Regions from separate parts of the Homo sapiens genome. Here regions 1, 3, 4 and 5 are each linked to region 2. Evidence: fine-mapped expression QTL. A gene starts in region 2. Each other region holds a variant in brackets. All regions are shown on one strand. Distances are between the middles of the regions.

Region 1 (4,119 bases), 76 kb before region 2:
GGCGCGGTGGCTCACGCCTGTAATCCCAGCACTTTGGGAGGCCGAGAAGGGTGGATCACCTGAGGTCAGGAATTTGAGACCAGCCTGGCCAACATGGTGAAACCCCGTCTCTACTAAAGATACAAAAATTAGCTGGGTGTGGTGGCACGCGTCTGTAGTCCCAGCTACTCGGGAGGCTGAGGCTGGAGGATCACTTGAACTCAGGAGGCGGAGGTTGCAGTCAGCTGAGAACATGCCACTGCACTCCATCCTGGGCTACAGCGCAAGACTCCGTCTCCAAAAAAGAAAAAAAGTATTCGCGTGCCACCAAAAATCATCCCAAAGTGTGCAATATATTTTACACTAACGTACTCTAAGCCATGCTACTCCTACTTATTTTATGTGAATCTAAGACTTCAAAGAAAGAAAGGAAACACATGAAAACTTTTATAGCCAAACATACATTTATTCAAGTAGGCACTGTGGGAAGCCATACCCTGATTTCTGTGGTGCTGCCATTATCATCATGTGTTTGCCTTGGAATCCTATTTGATAATGTCCTTTGGAGGTAGTTTATGAGCCGTATTAGAAGATCAGTTACATTCCTTTTGAAATCAGATGCTGTTTTGACTAGAAATGATGCTGAGCTTGCTTGACCATCTGTTTGGGTCACCTGGATTTATTCTCTATGACCTTTTGCTGTTTCCAAAAATAAAGAAAAAGGATATAAAATTGGAAACCAAGGGAGTACACTAGACCAGCCCCTGTCCTTGCACAGTGGGACTTCTGAAAGAGTAGTCTGGGCTCACTGTCTTATTCCCTCCCCTCCTATGCTCTTCTCAGCCTACTGGGGGGAAACCAGGCATCGAACACCCCCACTTCACTGTAGCATCTCACCAAGGTGACTGATGACTACCTAACTGCCAATTTCATGTTCCAGTTTCAGCTGTCATTCTTCTCAACCTTTCCACAACATTTAGCATTGTTGATCCTTTATCCATCCATTCAACCAGTTCAACCAAATAATACATAGTTTTTAGTATCTATATTTAAGGCACTGTGCTAGGGCCTGAGGATAGAGAGAGAAACATGGTCTTTGCCATCGTAAAGTTACATTCAGGAGAGGTGGTCATTATATAATGACTTACGTATTTAGTTACAAGTGTGTTAAGTACCACATACAGAAATACTAGATGCTAACAAAATACCAAAATACATAACATTATGTACATCTATATCTATATATACATAACATATATATGTACCTGTGTGTACACACACACACATAGAGTAAAGCAAAACAAAGGCTCTTACTTTATCACTCACTGAGACTTTCTCTCCCCAAATCCAGTGAGACTTCAGCTGGACACTGTGGGGGCCTCCTTCTTTTAAGCCAGAGAGGCCTCTGTGTTCTACAACTGGGCAGGCTGAGGGCCTGCTCTTCCCACCTCTACCCAAAGTCAAACCACAGATCTAATCCTGATGCCGTGGGCACTCCATGAGGGGAGAAAAGCCATGTGAGAGGAGAGAGGGAGATGGAGTTTGCACCCTCTGCCTTGACCTGCTCCAGGCCCTTCTTGGCTAGGGGATGAGGAGGCTGTGGGAGACTGGTGGGAAAGAAGGCTGATAATTTTCTTAAAAGAATTTATTTTTATTTTTTAGGGACAGAGTCTTGTTGTATCACCCAGGCTGGAGTGCAGTGGCACGATCTCAGCTCACTGCAACCTCCGCCTCCCAAGTTCAAGTGATTCTCGTGCCTCGGCCTCTTGAGTAGCTGGGATTACAGGTGTGCACCACCACACCTGGCTAATTTCTCTATTTTTAGTAGAGACATGTTTTTGCCATGTTGGCCAGGCTGGTCTTGAACTCCTGGCCTCAAGTAATCCGTCTGCCTCGGCCTCTCAAAGTGCTGAGATTACAGGTGTCAGCCACTGTGCCTGGCCTTGGAAGGCTGAGAGACACTCTTTCAAGTCCTTCCTTTCCTTCCTAGACATCAGTCACTCTACCAGCCTCCTGCCTCTCTTCTGCATTGCCTTTTTCCTCTGGTTCCCCCCTGGGTTTCAGTGTTTCCCAGTGTTCTGCCATTGGGCCATTCACTGTCTCTGTCCTACCTGCATATCTCACCTGCACCCATACCTTCAACTAACATTCACAGATCTATGACTTTCAAGAGTACTTTTTCCCTACATAGTCAGCAGATAACATCGTCACAGCCCAGTGCCTGGCATGGCAGGATGCTTGGCATTTGATAGCCATTCAGTTAGTAGTGAGCAGGGAATGAAAGAGCCC[T/C]GGGACAGCTCCAAAGAGGACTTCCAGAAATGTTTTCAGTTATCAGCACTATTGGAATGAGGGCATATAGTCTCCATTAAAAGGGCAGCATTAATGTAGATGTTGAATATCTGATTCTTTTATAAAGGAGTCTTTCCAACTAATTTGTAGGCACCTGGAGGGAAAAGCAACCAAACTTTGTTAAACTGCTCCCTGGGATGAAATATCTGACACCCCTATAATTGGATCTGGGTCCCATCTGTGCAGAGAGCATGGCACAGGCTGGAGGCAGATGGCATCTTTGAGATGCCATTTACAGTTGTCATAGTGAATGAGCAAGAAGGAAGGACAAGAAAGAAAACTCCTTTCTAATCTCTGCTTCGATGACAAAGGAACTGAGAGTAAAAAGGAAATTCGCTTTGCTGGCAACTCAGAGAGAAGATGAGGGCTGGGCTGGTGCCTTTTCTTTCTGGACCAGGTGGTGAGTTAGCATCAAAGGGATGTGTAAGTGAGCAGAGATGCCAAGAGCTCTGGGGCTTTGAAGGGCAGCAAAGAGGGTAGAGGCCAGAAATATCTGGGGCTTGTTCAGGCTGATAAAAGACTGGTACCAACATCATCTTTATGCTACCCAAGGGGGCGAACTGAAGGTCATTGTGTCTCTTAGGGTACCCATGCTCATAATTGGAGTATTTCTTTTCTTTTTTTTTTCTTTTTTTTTTTTTTTGCAATGGAGTCTCATTCTGCCGCCCAGGCTGCAGTGCAGTGGCACAATCTTGGCTCACTGCAACCTCTGCCTCCCAGGTTCAAGCAGTTCTCGTGCCTCAGTCTCCCAAGTAGCTGGAATTATAGGTATGTACCACCACGCTTGGCTAATTTTTTTGTATTTTTAGTAGAGATGCGGTTTCACCATGTTGCCCAGGCTGGTCTCAAACTCCTGACCTCAAGTGATATGCCCATCTCAGCCCCGCAAAGTGCTAGGATTACAGGCGTGAGCCACCGCACCCACTTGGCCCACAATTGGAGTATTTCTTTGATTTCAAATTGTGTGTGTTCTAGGGAGAAATACTGATATAGAGATCCAGGAATGCTGCAGACAGCCATAGGTGGCCTTTCTGGTATCTCGGCAGGAGTTTGCCTATTTTTCCCTCTCTGCCTCCATTGATTTTCACTTGCTAATAGATAACTTGGGCTTACCCAAGACCAGGTCATGTGGGACACAGAATCTAGGCATTGCTGCTGAAGGGATGATTTAGTAAAGATATAAACTCTTCTTTGGGCAGAGAGGTCAGTAGATCTGGGTCAATCCAAAGCTAGCATTGGTTCTGAGTACAGGAGAATAGGATTGGCCCTACAGGTACCTAAGGTGCAGGCTTCCTTTTGCACTTGGAGACTGCGAAGAGATTTACTAGAAGGGAGAAACGGGAGCTGAGTTGTGGAGAGTCATTTTCTGACATGGAGAAATAGCTTTCTCACTCTTCTTAGATGGGAGCCTTTCACTGGGTTTATATTTATTATGCAGTAGAGAATCAAATCCCAGGCACCAGGAGTGGGAAACAAGGGCAGTAAAACAGGGAAAGAAGGAGAGTCAGCGTATGATGCCTGATTGTACTGGTCTCCACAGAGGGTGGGCATTACCACATCTGTGTGACAGTGTCCTTAGACGCTGAAGAAACTAAGTCTTTGTTGGACAGCCCTTCAGAGGAAAGAAAGGAGGAAGGATTTCTCTACCAGCTCCTGTCCCCACAGGATTTTAACTCCCCTGCACTTCCAGATGGCATGTGCTGGGGTGTGGGTGCTGCAGCAGGGAAGTCCCAGAATAGGAGGCAAGACCTGGTCATGTTGTCAAAACCCATCCAGGGATGGGACAAGGAG
Region 2 (4,119 bases):
TTTTAGTTTATAATCGGGGATCTCCCTGGAGTTGGCATGTGATGGTCCCCAAATAGAAAGTATGTCTTTCAAAGTACTTTTATCCTCTCAGTAAACCTGCTGACCTGAGCAGGGAAGTATGACCCTTGTTGAGGTATGGAGAAAATGACAGGTGACTCAACAAAGGATATTCCTTTGCTCTATCTGACCATCAGGGCTATCAGTTTTGGAAACCAAATTCAAATAATATCATAATGACTTGTCCCTCCATGCAAAAGAAAACGGCCCATAAAAATCTATCAAATGTAATTGATTGTGAGAGGACCAACAAAAAATGTAACACGTTGCATAGTATTTGTGTGCTCAACAAGATTAGCTGTTTTCTCCCTTGTAACTTTAACATGGTCTGGCTTTACACTTCCTTTTCAGAAATACCTTGTAACTGTAATTTCCTGAGGCTGCATATCCACAGGGCCAACTCAGGGGACACACAGGCATGTTGGGCATTCTTGGGATTCTTTGTTAAATGGGGCCAAGCTCTGGGTTAAAATGGATTGAGCACAGTGGGGTGTGTGCCTCCTGGGAGGTGGTGATGCCGTGCACTCTGGGCTAAGCCTGTGGTTTTGTCCCACAGATTCGTCACTCATGCTGCTGCAGATGGCGGGTGTTGGACTGGGTTCCCTGGCTGTTGTGATCATTCTCACATTCCTCTCCTTCTCAGCGGTGTGGTATGTGAGGGTGTCATTTTTGAGAAATGACTGGAATGGAGGGGAGGATGGGTCAGAGTCACGAAGAACAGCTGGGGATGAGGGGAGTCAAAGGGAGTGTGGGTGGAGGTTGTCCTTGGCTCAGCAGAGCACACTCAGCGGTGAAAGGCATGACTAACCCTGTACCTCCAGGTAGCATGGGGGATGCCTTCCCAGGAAAAGAGCAGGACCAGTGATGGCTGCCCTGGCCACACACAGAGGGGTGGCTGAGCTTCCATGCTGCTCCCCCTCGCCTCCTCCCATGGGTGTGCGTGTGAGCTGTGCATAGAGATGCACAGTGGGAAAACCAAAGTGTGTTCATATTTGTCTCTTTTCTTTTCCTCCTCCATGTCTAGATGGCAGATGGACACTGAGTGGGGAGGATGCACTGCTGCTGGGCAGGTGTTCTGGCAGCTTCTCAGGTGCCCGCACAGAGGCTCCGTGTGACTTCCGTCCAGGGAGCATGTGGGCCTGCAACTTTCTCCATTCCCAGCTGGGCCCCATTCCTGGATTTAAGATGGTGGCTATCCCTGAGGAGTCACCATAAGGAGAAAACTCAGGAATTCTGAGTCTTCCCTGCTACAGGACCAGTTCTGTGCAATGAACTTGAGACTCCTGATGTACACTGTGATATTGACCGAAGGCTACATACAGATCTGTGAATCTTGGCTGGGACTTCCTCTGAGTGATGCCTGAGGGTCAGCTCCTCTAGACATTGACTGCAAGAGAATCTCTGCAACCTCCTATATAAAAGCATTTCTGTTAATTCATTCAGAATCCATTCTTTACAATATGCAGTGAGATGGGCTTAAGTTTGGGCTAGAGTTTGACTTTATGAAGGAGGTCATTGAAAAAGAGAACAGTGACGTAGGCAAATGTTTCAAGCACTTTAGAAACAGTACTTTTCCTATAATTAGTTGATATACTAATGAGAAAATATACTAGCCTGGCCATGCCAATAAGTTTCCTGCTGTGTCTGTTAGGCAGCATTGCTTTGATGCAATTTCTATTGTCCTATATATTCAAAAGTAATGTCTACATTCCAGTAAAAATATCCCGTAATTAAGATTGTTCTTCCCTTGGTTAATTTTTCTGTTACTAAGCGTCTTCTAAAAATGCTCTTTGCCCCCTGTTAGAAACTGAGATTTGGTGGTAGTGTAGTAGCAATGCTTAAAACAGTATTGAGCCCATGGCTAGACTAGAGTCCATGTGTGTTTCAGGGGAGGGGTTGCCATAGAGGGTGACACTTCTTTTATCTAAACTTCAGTAACTATGAATGTTACTCCATTATGAACTATGAAACATTAGATATAAGCGGTGCTGGACCTACTGTGAATATGCTAAGTTGACAGCTGGAGTCTATTTGATTTTACTTTTAAATCATGAATTGGCATTCTTTCCTCTTTTTTTTTTTTTTTTTTTTGAGATGGACTCCCACTCTGTTGCCCAGGCTGGAGGGAAGTGGCGTGATCTCAGCTCACTGCAACCTCTGCCTCCCGGGTTCAAGTGATTCTCCTGCCTCAGCCTCCCATGTAGCTGGGACCACAGGGCCCCCCCACCACGCCCAGGTAATTTTTGTATGTTTAGTAGAGATGGAGTTTCACCATGTTGGCCAGGGTGGTTTCAAACTCCTGATCTCAGTTGATTCGCCCACCTTTGCCTCCCAAAGTGCTGAGATTACAGGTGTGAGCCACACGCCCGGCACTAACTAACAATTTAACTCCAAGACTCAGTAAGAAACGAATGGGGAAGGAAAGACAGAGGCTTCTGGCATCTCTCCTTCTCCCTTGCCTGCTAGGCCTAGAGAAGAAAAACCATGGAGGAGGGGAGGTGATACTGCACAGCCTCAAGATGCAGCATAGACGAATGCAGTCCTTAGCAAAAGGAAAGGGCTTCCCAATGCAGTGGGCCGGTGTGTTCACCGGCTTGCTGGGTGTCAGTGAGGGAAGACTCTGAGTGCCTTGGGCTTATGGGCAGATGAAGAGACAAGAGGAACAAGTACAAACTGCCCATGTAGCTGCTCCACCCCAGGGAGTCCAGAGTGTATCCGCTCTATTGGGAAGAATTAGAGAGAGGCGAGTAATATCCTGACATTCAGGTGTTCAATGCCAGCTGTCAGCCTCTGGCCCCTGCCAGTGTTAGGAATGATTCCCCTGTCCTCTGGGGTACTGCCCTCCGACGACAACTTAGGATCAGCATTTAAAACCCTTTCTGCTCTCGTCTTAGGTAAATTATAGACCAGAACGGGTCTATAATGGGGACAGGTCCCCATCCTAACCCCCAGAGACCGTTTCTCTCAATAGATGAATACAAATAGCTCTCAATTTTTAATTTTTATGTGCAATAATGCAAACATACTTTTTTTTTTTTTTGAGACGGAGTCTCACTCTTTCTCCCAGGCGGGAGTGTAGTGGCGCTATCTCGACTCACTGCAAGCTCCGCCTCCCGGGTTCACGCCATTCTCCTGCCTCAGCCTCTGGAGTAGCTGGGACTACAGGTATCCGCCACCGTGCCCAGCTAATTTTTTGTATTTTTAGTAGAGATGGGGTTTCACCGTGTTAGCCAGGATGGTCTCGATCTCATGACCTCGTGATCCACCCGCCTTGGCCTCCCAAAGTGCTGGTATTACAGGCATGAACCACCACGCCTGGCCGCAAACATACATTTTTATAGCTCCTGAACTAAATTGGGTATCAATACAAATTACTGTGGTTAGTGTAGGGCTCGGCCTCTGATGAGTGAGGATCTTTCCTCAAAGCCCACCTTTGTCCAAAGAAAGAATCTGAGCCTCCCCTTGACTTATTTTATTTTTTGCCAGTTTTGTAAATGCTGTATGCTTCCATACTACCCCCTTCCCTAATTTCCACCTCTAGAATTAACTGCCAGAGATACAGTTGTCCACATGGAATGTAGTATAATTGTGATAGAAAGGAAGAAATCCCCCTTGCTTAGTATTAAAAGTTTCTGGTTAAAATAACTGACTAAATATTAAGTAAAACATCACCTTCTGGGTACAATGCAGAAAAGTAAAAGCAGTTCATATAAGATTACTAAACTTTGGGAGGTCTTCAAGACCAGCCCTGGCAACATAGCGAGACCCCATGTCTGCAAAAAAAGTTTTAAAAATTAGCCGGGCATGGTGGCGTGCACTTGTAGTCCCAGCTACTCAGGAGGCTGAGGCAGGAGGATCGCTTGAGCCCAGGAGTCTGAGGTTGCAGTGAGCCGTGGTGACACCACTGCACTCCCGCCTGGGTGACAGAGTGAGATCCAAAAAAATTTACTGAAATAACAAAAACGTGGACTTTGGGATTTCCTCTAACTGCTGCAAATTATAACACAGAATTGCTCAGTGTTAATACTTGAATTGTGGGGCCAAGTCTTCTGGCTGCCCTAG
Region 3 (4,119 bases), 130 kb before region 2:
GCTTGTGAGGCCAGATGCAGTGGCTCACTCCTGTAATCCCAGCACTTTGGGAGACCAAGGTGGGAGGATTGCTTGAGCCAAGGAGTTGGAGACCAGCCTGGGCAACATAGCCAGATCTTGTCTCTACAAAAAAAATTTTTTAAATGAGCCAGGCATGATGCTGCGCCCCTGTAGTCCCAGCTACTGGGAGGTTGAGGCTAGTGGACTACCTGAGCCCAAGAGGTTGAGGCTGTGGTGAGCTGTGCACTCCAGCTTGGGCAACAGAACAAGACCTTGTCTCCCCAAGAGGAAAAAAGAGCCTAGGAAGATGAGCTTTTTCTTTGTTTGTTTTTGTTTGTTTGTTTTTTTAAGAGAGGGGGTCTCACTGTATTGCCCACATGGGCCTTGAATTCCTGGACTCAAGCAATTCTCCTGCCCTTCAGCCTCTTTAGTAGCTGGGACTACAGGCATGCCACACTTCACCCAGCTTGAAGTTGATTTTTAACTACTTGTTAAGACTCCACAACTTTAGCCCTTATATGGGTGTGTTTGAAAGTGGTGAGATTTACGGCAGGCTCATGGCAGAGAGTAAACAAGTGAGGATATGGGGTGAAGTAGTGGGGTGCCTGCTCTCGGCTGCGCTCCCACAGACATCACAAGCTCAAAGCCTTCAAACCGGATCTTATTTATTTCCTTCTCCCCGACTAGTCATAAAACCTAGTGGATTCCACTCTTACACACTGCCCTCTTCACACTCATTTGTCAATGCCCAGCTGCAGGACACATCTATCTCTATCTCTATCTGTCTGTCTGTCTGTCTGTCTGTCTATCTATCTATCTATCTATCTATCTATCTATCTATCTATCTATCTATCTATCTGTCTATGGAGTCTCACTCTGTCGCCCAGTCCGGAGTGCAGTGGTGCGAGCTCGGCTCACTTCAACCTCCGCCTCCTGGGTTCAAGCAATTCTCTCGCCTCAGCTTTCCGAGTAGCTGGGATTACAGGTGCCTGCCACCGTGCCCACCTAATTTTTTTTTTTTCAGTAGAGACGGGGTTTCACCAAGTTGGCCAGGCTGGTATCGAGCTCCTGACCTCAAGTGATCCACCCGCCTCGACCTCCCAAAGTGTTGGGATTACAGGCGTGAGCCACCGCACCGGGCCAGGACATGTCTTCTATTGCCTGATTCCTGCAGCAACTCCGGGCTGGACTCTTTGCCTTCCACATCCCAACCCAACCCCAATCCCAATTCCACAGAACAGACAGAGATGTGTCAGTGATGAAGTCATTCACTGCTTGAAACTGTGACAGCTTCCCGGCGACCTCCATCACTTGGGTTAGGAGGGCTAACTTCCCTCTGCAGCTCAACGCCCCTCTCCAACCCTCTGCTCTCACTCTAGGTCCCCATTCCCCATTTCTACAACAAACTCCCGCTTAGATTCCTCCCCAACGTCCTTCTCATCCTTGGGTCTTGGTTTACTCCTTCCCTTGGGATGAGTACGGCTGTGATGGAGGTAGGGGCTGGCATCAGCGCGTCCCAAGCCGGGTGTCCTCAGAGCAGCGGGGACTGATGCCAGCCCCTCCCTCCATCACAGCCCTACTCTCTCTCACTCCCGGTGACCAGGTGTCACCTGGTCAAGTGTGTCGCCCCTGGGTGGCCTGGGTCTGCGTCTTCCGACCTCTCATCTGGGCCTTGCGCTGTGGTCACCTCATCCAGCTCCCTTTCACGTCCTGGAAGATTTCCGCCCCTTGCTCCCCTCACCCCTCTCCCCGGGGGTGCCTCCCTGAGCCCTCGAGTGGCTTGAATCCTCCGCAACATTTCCTCCCCAGCACTCTCCGGGGCTCTGCGTCCAGCTGTGTCATTATCCGATGAGTGTCTGTCCCCCTTTGCGAATGTGAGCGGCGAGAGGGCAGCAAGTGCGGAGCCAGAGACGGACGCGGAACGGGCGTGTCCTAAGCCCAGGCCCCGACA[A/G]GAGGAAGGACCCGCGCTCTGCGGCCTCCCGGGGACCCCGCAGCGCCCCCCGCTTCCCTCGGCGGCGCCGGAAGCCGCCGGCTGGTCCCCTCCCCGCGGCGCCTGTAGCCTTATCTCTGCACCCTGAGGGCCCCGGGAGGAGGCGCGGGCGCGCCGGGAGGGACCGGCGGCGGCATGGGCCGGGGGCCCTGGGATGCGGGCCCGTCTCGCCGCCTGCTGCCGCTGTTGCTGCTGCTCGGCCTGGCCCGCGGCGCCGCGGGAGCGCCGGGCCCCGACGGTGAGTGCGGGCTGGGACGGGCACGGGCGGCCGGCGGGGCCCCCGGCTGGGCCTCGAGGACTCTGGGCGCACGGACGCTTCCCCGCCCCTGGGCCGGGCCGGCGCGGTGCCGAGGCGTGGGGCGCAGGTGGGGCCCGCGCCGGCCGTTGGAGATCGGCAAGGAGGAGCTCAGAGAAGCGGGGGGCTCCCCGCCGGGCTTCCCTGCCCCCGCCCGACCCCGCGACGCCGGGGGACGCCGGTTTTAAGGCGGCCTGGCCGGGCCCCCAGGGACCTCCACTGCCCAGGAGGCGGGGTGGGGGCTGGGCGCGAGCGCGGACCCGGGCAGGGCGGCGCCCGGGGAAGGGCGGGGAGGCCAGGGCGTTCTGCGGCGCTGTCACGCTTCCGGCTCTGCGGTGGCTTTTGCATGACACATTTTTGACCCGAAGCAATTTTCTTACCACTTTTAATTTTTTCACGTTGTTAGAGAGCCGGATGCTAAATATGGTGAGAAAGACGCGTAAGGAAGAGTACAGGAGTGAAGCCATTAATTCACTCATTCATTCAACAGATGGCCCTTGAACAGCTTCCCTGTGCGCGATGAGGGCGGGCAGTGCGGGCCCTCGTGGAGCTCATTGTCTGGAGGATTTAGACCAGCAAATGTTCTATTTCCAAGCAATCGAGGGAGTTGTTTTTCCTCCTCTGCAAAATGCAGTGTTGAGCTGAGTAGGAATTACACAGAGGATTCAGACACGCAGGGGAGGTGACATTCATCCACATAACTGTAATACAAGGCAGAATGGCATGGGTGCCATGAGAAGGTGTGGGTGGTGAGGGCAGGGAAAGGGGAATCGGTGGTGACCCTTGAGCTGGGCCATCAATGATTGGTCATATTTGGATATGGGAAAATGTGAAAAAGGTATCCCAGCTCATAGCAGAAGGCACTGTCACCTCTCCACAAATGAGTGTAGAATGAATGAATTCCTTCAGAATTCAGGCCCGGGGGAGAAGGGAAGGAAGCACACGGAGGCACCAGAGGCAGAGGGCAGAGTGCCTTGATTGGCAGACCTAGGCCTTTGGACTTAGCTGTGCCTGGAAGCCACTGGAAGCCGTCTCAGGGAGTGACAAGAAAAGTGGGTCTAGCCAGTTCTAGGCGCTTCGGGAGCCACAGGTTACAGTGCAGACATGGCCAAATCCAAGCACCACACCACACACAACCAGTCCCGAAAATGGCACAGAAACGGCATCATGAAACCCGGATCACAAAGATACGAATCTTTTAAAGGGGTGGACCCCAAGTTCCTGACAAACATGCGGTTTGCCAAGAAGCACAATAAGAGGGGCCTAAAGAAGATGCAGGGCGACAGTGCCAAGGCCATGAGTGCACGTGCTGAGGCCTTGCCCTCATAAACCCCAAGGAGGTTAAGCCCAAGATTCCAAAGGGTGTCAGCTCTTGCCTACGTTGCCCACCTCAAGCTTGGGAAACGTGCTCGTGCCCGCATTGCCAAGGGGCTCAGGCTGTGCCAGCCAAAGACCAAGGTCAAGGATCAAACCAAGGCTCAGGCTGCAGCTCCAGCTTCAGTTCCAGCTCAGACTCCCGAAGGAGCTCAGGCCCCTACAAAGCCTTCAGAGTAGAGATCTGTGTCTGCCAACGTGAGGACAGAAGGATTGTCCCCCTTGGACTGCCATCTGCATGGGGCTGATGTCCTCCTTTGCTATTTGTATAAGTAAACTTGAGGCGGGGGAAAGAGGGTCTAAGGAACCCCCATCTTCCTTACTAAAACCAAACGCTGATCCTGAAGTGGAAGGAAATTTCCATGTGATGACATACAAGGAGACTTGTGGTTGAGAATCCTGCCTGCCGCCCCCACCCCCATTCTCTTTGGCTTGGGACTTTTACCATGCCTGATGGGTA
Region 4 (4,119 bases), 71 kb before region 2:
TGCCAGTGGCATCCAGTGGCCTGTCAGGTGAATCACAGGTTAGAATTCTGACCTATATCCAAGCTGGAATCTTTCCTTTCCCTCTAAGTCAGGTAATGGGCCACGCTCATTCATGATGAAGAGAAGTTGGGTGATTGGCTTGGGAGAGCTTGCATTGCCTGACTCAGTGTCTGCCTCTGAGGATGAATGGTGACCAGCAGAGATACCAGCTATGCAGAGAGACTGATCTCCTTTAGAATTTTGCTAAAGCCCATTGATGCATTTTGTGAGTTGACTGCCTTTTTCTCTTTTAGAAATTCTGACAAAGATTAATGATGTATCACTGTTTAATGATACCTGTGTGAGATGGCAAATAAACTCAAGAAGAATAAACCCCAAGATCTCATATGTGGTAAGTAAAGTGATCTACTTTTTCCTGCTAGGACAGACACGTCACCCATGGGAATATGAGTCAGAGGGACTTGCTTCCGTGAGAGCTTCTCAATCTAATTGCTGTTTTTTTTTCTTTTTTTCTTTTATTTTTTTTGTGAGACAGTCTCACTCTGTTGCCCAGGCTGGAGTGCAGTGGTGGGATCTTGGCTCACTGCAACCTCAGCCTCCCGGGTTCAAGCGATTCTCCTGCCTCAGCCTCCTGAGTAGCTGGGATTAGAGGTGTGCACTACCATGCTTGGCTAATTTTTTGTATTTTCAGTAGAGATGGGGTTTCACCACGTTGGCCAGGCTGGTCTTGAACTTCTGACCTCAGATAATCCACCTACCTCGGCCTCCCAGAGTGCTGGGATTATAGGCATGAGCCACCGCGCCTGGCCTCAATCTAATTGCTTTCTGATCCCATTGTCATTTAAAAAGAGTGGATGGAATTTTTGAAGATATCTGGATGATTTCGTTATTTTGCATTTTGTGTTTAACATATTTGTCATTCAGCAGGGTGCATGTGTGGGGGATGCATTTATATTTGGCATCCTCACGATTGCTTGTTTCCAAGCACTTGTATTTCACTCCCCCAGAGCAAGCCCGGGAGCGTCTGCTGACTTGGTGACAGAGTGCAGCCAATGGTCCTCAGGTTGCAATTGTCTCCATTTGATCATTTGTGTGCAGGAGAGCACTTCCTAGGGAGATTTCTCATTTATGTCTCCTCTAGGGGTTTAATATTCACTGGGCTGATCAGACTTTATCAGCAGACCAGGTTTACCTTACGAATGCTCCCTGGCTGAGCAGCACAGTATAAAATAGAATAGTAGGAGAATGGGCTCCAGCACCACAAATCCTGGATTGTTTTGACTGGAGTCAGAGTGGGTTCTCTTGTCTTTTCCTCTCAAAGATATCCATAAAAGGACAACGGTTGGACCCTATGGAATCAGTTCGTGAGGAGACAGTCAACTTGACCACAGACAGCAGGACCCCAGAAGTGTGCCTAGCCCTGTACCCAGGCACCAACTACACCGTGAACATCTCCACAGCACCTCCCAGGCGCTCGATGCCAGCCGTCATCGGTTTCCAGACAGCTGGTAGGTGGAGGTGAAGTCTCATTTCCTCCTAGAAAATGCTAAGCACAGAATGTGGGGAAGTATGCTGCAGAATCAGCTGGGCTGGAGAGCTCCTATTTGCTGTCTGAGATTTATACTCAGATGTAGTTGCTCCAGCCACAGAACTAGAGCAGGTCAAGAGATCCGTATCCTCTTGGTACCAGGCTGAATGGGCTCTGGGGTATTTTTTCTCAGCTGAGCCCTCCGGGAGAGGTGGAAAGTAATAAAAAGGCATTTAAAAGGAATGCCTTTTAAATGATGATCAGTCCACTCTCAAATATCCAAGGCAACAGAGGGTAGCCATGTGGCTTATCTTTGGTAGTAAACTCAAAAGTCATTTCTGGCCAGGTGTGGTGGCTCACGCCTATAATCCCAGCACTTTGGGAGGCTGAAGTGGGCAGATCACTTGAGGTCAGGAGTTCCAGACCAGCCTGGCCAACATGGCAAAACCTTATCTCTACTGAAAATAGAAAAACTTAGCTGGGTGTGGTGGCACACACCTGTAGTCCCAGCAACTCGGGAGGCTGAGGCACAAGAATCACTTGAACCCAGGGGGCAGAAGTTGCAGTGAGTGAACCGAGATTGCACCACTGCACTCCTGCCTGGGCAACAGGGCAAGACTCTGTCTCAAAAAAAA[C/A]CCAAAAAAACCAAAAAGCCATTTCTTGCTCTTGCGTGTGAAAGAGGAGGTGCCAGGGAGGCTGACCCAGCAGCTTTAAAGAGATCAAGTTGAGAGTGGGGAAGTGGAAGCAGGGGCACCCCTAGGGTGCAGGAGGGTAGGTGTTAGCTGAAAAAAGGAGTGGAATGAAGGAGCTTTAAGAAGTAGAAATAAACCTCATTTTACATAATTGTCATGTGGGTTTTTAACAACATTGTGACAATTACAGTAAGTTAAAAAAAAAAAGCTCTGGTTATGGGTATGAGGACTAATTAAATACCTTGTAGACAGGTGGGGCACGGTGACTCATGTCTGTAATCCCTGCACTTTGGGAGGCTGAGGAGGATTGCTTGAGGCCAGGAGTTTGAGGTCAACCTGAGCAACACAGTGAGGCCCCATCTCTACAAAAAAAAAAAAGAAAGAAAATTTAGCTTGGTGTGATGGTGCATGCCTATAGTCCCAGTTACTCGGGTGGCTGAGGCGAGAGGATCACTTGTTCAAGGCTGCAGTGAGCTATGATCATGCCACTGCACTCCAACCTGGGTGACGGGGCAAGACCCTGTCTCAGAAAACAAACAAAAAACCCGGTAGACAAACCTTGACAAGTAATTGATGTCATTTATTTATTTTTTGAGATGGAGTCTTGCCCTGTCGCCCAGGCTGGAGTGCAGTGGTGCGATCTCAGCTCACTGCAATCTTTGCTTCCTAGGTTCAAGCAATTCTCCTGCCTCAGCCTTCTGAGTAGCTGGGATTACAGGCATCCACGACCGTGCCTGGCTATTTTTTGTATTTTTAGTAGAGACTGAGTTTCACCTTATTGGCCAGGCTGGTCTTAAACTCCTGACCTCAAGTGATCTGCCCATCTCAGCCTCCCAAAGTGCTGGGATTATAGGCGTGAACCACCACAGCTGGCCGATGTCATTTATTATTTTGGGGGAGTTGAGAAAGTTCTTAATTAGCTGTTTGCTATCCCACTGAAACTGTACCTTAACCCGAGTAGCTGGGAATAGTTCAGCAGAAATAGTTGAAAAAGTCTGCCAATCTTAACAATATAAAACCAACTATGAGATTATACAAATTAGGTCTCTTGACATTTGTATATAAATAAAACAAAATTAATTCTTTGCAAGTAAATAATATGCAGGCAAAGATATTATAAAATTAATATGGTAACTAATCAGAGAAGTCTTACAAAATTATTAGTAAACTACTATAGGGAAATGTCTTTAAAAGATCATCACTCACCTGCCACTGTTCAGTGAGGATGACAGGTTGCTGTTTGGCGTCAGCTGTTTTTACTAATATCCAATTACCTGTTCAAGTTCCTTTCCCTTGGGAAAAACATGGTCTTTGGAGTCAGGCAGATCCGGTTTTGCATCTTAACTCTGTATTGAAGAGTTGGCTGATCATGGCTGAGTTATTTAATGTCTCTGGACTAAAGGGAATTGGATTATATTTGCAAGTTAATCTAGAGAGAATTAGGATTTATGTTGAGCCATCCTAACTGGGAGCAAGGTATGTTTCCACATTTACTCAGTGTCTACTCAGGTCTTCTGTTTATTTATGCACTGTTATAAAGACTTGTCATTTTTTTCCTCTAGATCCTGGACATTCTGTTGTCTGATTTCATTATTGGAGTTATGCTATTTTCCTTAAAATGAATTGGGAAGTTTTCCATTGTTTTTCCCTCTGGAATACTTTATATCATGTTTGAATTATTCCCTTCTTTTAAAGTTGAAAACTTTCTCAAAAGATTGTTGAAGTTTCACCCCTTTCAGGAGATGATTCTTTAAGAACTTTGTCAATTTCTTCCATGATTTTGGGTCTGTTTATGTTTCTGACATTTTCTTGAGTCAATTTTTATATTTTTCTAAAAAATGTATATTTGGTTGATATACTACACATATTGGCAGAATGGCATATGGAATATTTGCTTAC
Region 5 (4,119 bases), 20 kb before region 2:
CACACCCGGCCACATAGAGAGACTTCTAAAGGACCCTATATACAAGCATTTGGGCAGTTTAGCTCAAGAAATTACATCCATTCCTTTGGTCCCTGGGTAAACGTCGGTTGCATGTTAGGACATGTCAGGATTGTCCTTTGCACTCATGTCTCATAGTACATCCTTTATGGATGGTGGGTCAGGGGCATCGTTTCATTTCCCAAAGGCAGAATATGTTGCCCTTTATGTAAGGTTGATCTTGGGGGGTGTGCAGTGGTTTCTGAAAAGATCATTTAGGTAAATCTTTTTGTCTTTTCATGTATTGAGTTACAGGCAAGACACTGTATAATTAATGACTGCTTCTGGGATTCCAGATGGCATTAGGATGGAATTAATTTACCTCAGTTGGAGGACTACAGTGTGTTCAGTTAAGTGTTTTATTTGCAAAGGTCATGGCAGGATTAGGAAAGTAGCATCAGTCCCTTTTTTAGAGAGGAAGATTGAGGTTGGCGTGGAGAGATGAACAGCTTGCTCACAGTACCAGCTCAAGGAGATGAAAATGTACATGGCCTCACCAACATTGCCTTTGTCTCTGCTGACCCTTCGGTAAAATCAAGGTTAAAAAAAAAAAAGTGAGATATTATAAAATTACAAAAAAGAAAGTCTGGCGATATTATCTGTATATCCATTTATAATAAAACTTAGGGTTTTCCTGCTTTTATATTCATTTAAGTTCAGTAAATGTGCAAAGATCTTTCCAGGGATGGACATTGTATAAATTGTTCTGATTCTTGACAAGTTACCAGAAGGCATTGTAATTCTGTCATTATAAAGAGAACAGAAGTTGTGATGTCACTTCCTGAGAGCATTTGCAAGAACAAATGTGATATTTATGTCAAATAATGACATAATGCAAAAGAAAAGCCAAATGACAGCTTACCCTTGTGGCTATATGCCGGCCAGCGCCTCCAAAACAGGAAGTGGAGAACTGTGAGTCATTCGAGGGAGTGTGGTGGTGAAAAAGAGGAGAAAAGTCCTTCCAGAACAGTCATATTCCAAACAGCCACAGCTGCTTCTTTAACATCACATGGCTAATTACCAGCAGGCAGGGTGGTTTTCCTAAGCCTGACTACCTGGTTTGAGCTGGGGGGCAGCAGCTTTGCCAGTGTGTGAGACAGGCCTGAGTCTGCTTTGTGCACCATTTAGGGACAGTGTCTTGGGGTACATAATGGAGCAAGGTCCCTGGGACCAAGTCTCTGCTGAGGTTGCTGATGTTAGGCAGAGGATGGAGCCTGTTGCTGGGTTCCCTTAATGCTCGTGTCTCCCACATTGCCAGATTATAGGAATCACCTGGGAGCTTTACCAGCGATACAGATTCCCAGAATCTACTCCTAGAGATTTCGATTCAGTAGGTCGGTATGAGGTCGGGGAATTTGTATAATAATCAAGCAACACAGGTGATTACGGTCAGGCTAATTGGGGAGCTGATTCATACTCTGTCGATGATGCCTCTAGTGAGCAATGTACGGAACCAAATGGGCACAGGTGAGCCTCGACCTTGCTCTTGACCACCACCACCTGCATGGAAAGATGAGAGGGATTT[A/G]AAGATGTACTTATGGACCGCATGGAGGTGCTGCAACATTTACTTTCTTACCTGTGGCTATGATGTAGGGATGTCTTCAAGTCTCCCGGCAAGTTTGTTGTTACAGGTGTTCCCCATAGGCAGTGGATGCTTAATAAATGTTTACTGGTGGTGACAACTTATTGCCCTGTGGGTTTTACTTTATCTCTTTTGTAGAAAGCCCTTGGCTGAAAGTGAGCCAAGACTTTATGAAAATCAGGACCCTGGGCCAGGCACAGTGGCTTACGCCTGTAATCCCAGCCCATTGGGAGGCAGAGGTGGGCACACAGGGCAGTGATACGTGCAACAACTTCCCCCAGCTAAAGAGGTCAGGAGTTCAAGACCAGCCTGGCCAACATGGTGGAACACCATCTCTACTAAAAATACAAAAAAAATTAACCGGGCATAGTGGCGAGTGCCTGTAGTCTTGGCTACTCAGGAGGCTGAAGCAGAAGAATCGCTTGAACCTGGGAGGTAAAGGTTGCAGTGAGCTGAGATCACACCACTGCACTCCAGCCTGGGCAGCAGAGCAAGACTCCCTTCTTAAAAAAGAAAAGAAAAGAAAGAAAATCAGGGCCCTGAGGATACCTAGGATGTTTGGGAACCTGGTGGGGGGAGACTTTCCATATCCAACACCCACTGTGGAGGAGGGCTCCCTCTTCTTAACCTAGTGATTCATGGGCTCTTAGGAAGCAGGAGATAGGGCGTTTGACATGTGAAGCAGGAAGTTCAAATTTACTGGTAAAATAGAATTACATGGCCTAATGAGTTTTGGAAATTACCCTAATTATATTTCACGCTGATGTATGCTTTTCCTCTTTTCCGAAATTTCAACTCAAGAATCATTCATTGCTGGTGGCGGAGGGGCGGGGCAGGGCGGGGGTTGGGGAGCTATCATTTCCAAAGAACTGTGCAAGGATTTGCAAGAATACAAGTCAGTCGTTCAGATCCCTGCTATCAAGCCTGACAGAGACAGCAGATGCTCAACATGGTACTAGAGGCAGGAGCTAAGTACCAGATAGATGGGAATAGAAGGGAAGTGTGATTCATTCTCAGTGCATTTTTATTCTCACACGTCCTTTCACTGCCAGGCTTTCTATTTGATGGGACAAATAATGAAACACATAACAAAAACAATACCCATTTGTTAGTGTGTTTTTCTGTCCACAATTGGGGAACAGTTTTTACAGTGCATACATGACATATTACTGTTCTGGCTGTTTCAGGGTGTTGTCAGACTAGATTAACTCATGGTGACTCTGCACTCTTGGCGTCTCATTTATTTCACATGAACTTTGGTATCAGCCCATGAACTGTAGGGGATGTAAATCACATGAGTTCTGTTTCAGGTCACCGCATGACTGTCTGCAGCCTTTTTTCCGGACTTAGTACATTCACTGTGGTAGGCACTCGGTCTCCATGTGACTGCTAACCCTTTCCACAGTTGGGCTTTATTTGCCCACGTGAAAATCACTGATCAGGTCAATTTTATGACACACACACAGGGCAGTGATACTTGCAACAACTTCTCCCAGCGAAAGAGGATGTACTTGGCATCTCTCTGCAGCCAGAACTTGGAGAGGTCCCTTGCCCTGTGTCGTCTGGCATTAACCCTTTAGGTTCAAACTGGAATTCCATGATGGTTGGAGCCATCAGACTGTAAATCCCACATGGGCCCGGACTTTTTCTTGCCTAGTGTCGTGTCTCCAGTGCCTAGAAAGAGGCTTATTTCAGCTGGGCGCAGTGGCTCACGCCTGTAATCCCAGCACTCTGGGAGGCCGAGGCGGGTGGATCATGAGGTCAAGAGATCGAGACAAGCCTGGCCAACATGGTGAAACCCCATCTCTACTAAAAATACAAAAGTTAGTTGGGCGTGGTGGCATGCACCTGTAGTCCCAGCTACTTGGGAGGCTGAGGCAGGAGAATTGCTTGAACCTGGGAGATGGAGGTTGCAGTGAGCCGAGATTGCACCACTGTACTCCAGCCTAGTGACAGAGCAAGACTCCATCTCAAAAAAAACAAAAAACAAAAAAACAAAGAAAGAGGTTTGTCTCATAGCAGGTGCTCAATAAATATGAATGAATGAATGAACTCCCCATGCAAGGGTCTGATGGACACTTCTCCTTTTTTCTTCCAGTTCATATCAGGTGTTAGTGCTTCCCCTGGCCCTCCAAAGCACATTTTCTTGTGATTCTGAAGGCGCTTCCTCCTTCTTTAGCAACGCCTCTGATGCTGATGGATACGTGGCTGCAGAACTACTGGCCAAAGATGTTCCAGATGATGCCATGGAGATACCTATAGGAGACAGGCTGTACTATGGGGAATATTATAATGCACCCTTGAAAAGAGGGAGTGATTACTGCATTATATTACGAATCACAAGTGAATGGAATAAGGTATCTTTCTTTCCAAGCTCTTGTGAACTCTGTATTTTCTTCTTCGTATGACATTTAAATGTTTGAACATTTATTTTCCAAGTATATGAGAGGGTCACTGCATGTAACAATCACAAAATGTTT

What was found.
Region 1: its variant is fine-mapped to the expression of LINC02977 in cerebellar hemisphere (GTEx, PIP above 0.99). The same link has a PIP of 0.9 or more in cerebellum.
Region 3: its variant is fine-mapped to the expression of LINC02977 in blood mononuclear cells (TOPMed, PIP above 0.99). The same link has a PIP of 0.9 or more in monocytes, prefrontal cortex, subcutaneous fat, tibial nerve and whole blood.
Region 4: its variant is fine-mapped to the expression of LINC02977 in macrophages (Nedelec 2016, PIP 0.95).
Region 5: its variant is fine-mapped to the expression of LINC02977 in blood mononuclear cells (TOPMed, PIP above 0.99).

The regions. Positions count from the first base shown.
Region 1 is chr9:112,114,661-112,118,779 of GRCh38, reverse strand. All of the region lies in intron 6 of SUSD1 (sushi domain containing 1), which reads left to right. Among named protein-coding and RNA genes, the nearest start is that of SUSD1, 59 kb to the left of the region's middle. The variant T/C (reference allele first, on the strand shown) is at 2,269.
Region 2 is chr9:112,038,455-112,042,573 of GRCh38, reverse strand. LINC02977 (long intergenic non-protein coding RNA 2977) reads left to right here and starts at 2,150. Exons shown (of 3, transcript NR_186812.1): 1 at 2,150-4,119. SUSD1 (sushi domain containing 1) reads left to right here. Exons shown (of 17, transcript NM_022486.5): 16 at 614-707; 17 at 1,082-1,791. The coding sequence ends at 1,082. RefSeq lists enhancers at 1-12, 103-152, 264-902, 308-1,507, 903-1,542.
Region 3 is chr9:112,173,242-112,177,360 of GRCh38, reverse strand. SUSD1 (sushi domain containing 1) reads left to right here and starts at 2,064. Exons shown (of 17, transcript NM_022486.5): 1 at 2,064-2,228. The coding sequence starts at 2,126. It also overlaps the pseudogene RPL29P20. RefSeq lists a silencer at 1,946-2,605. The variant A/G (reference allele first, on the strand shown) is at 1,952.
Region 4 is chr9:112,109,043-112,113,161 of GRCh38, reverse strand. It overlaps SUSD1 (sushi domain containing 1), which reads left to right. Exons shown (of 17, transcript NM_022486.5): 7 at 294-391; 8 at 1,322-1,508. Among named protein-coding and RNA genes, the nearest start is that of SUSD1, 64 kb to the left of the region's middle. The variant C/A (reference allele first, on the strand shown) is at 2,164.
Region 5 is chr9:112,058,305-112,062,423 of GRCh38, reverse strand. SUSD1 (sushi domain containing 1) reads left to right here. Exons shown (of 17, transcript NM_022486.5): 14 at 3,738-3,996. Among named protein-coding and RNA genes, the nearest start is that of LINC02977, 20 kb to the right of the region's middle. The variant A/G (reference allele first, on the strand shown) is at 1,583.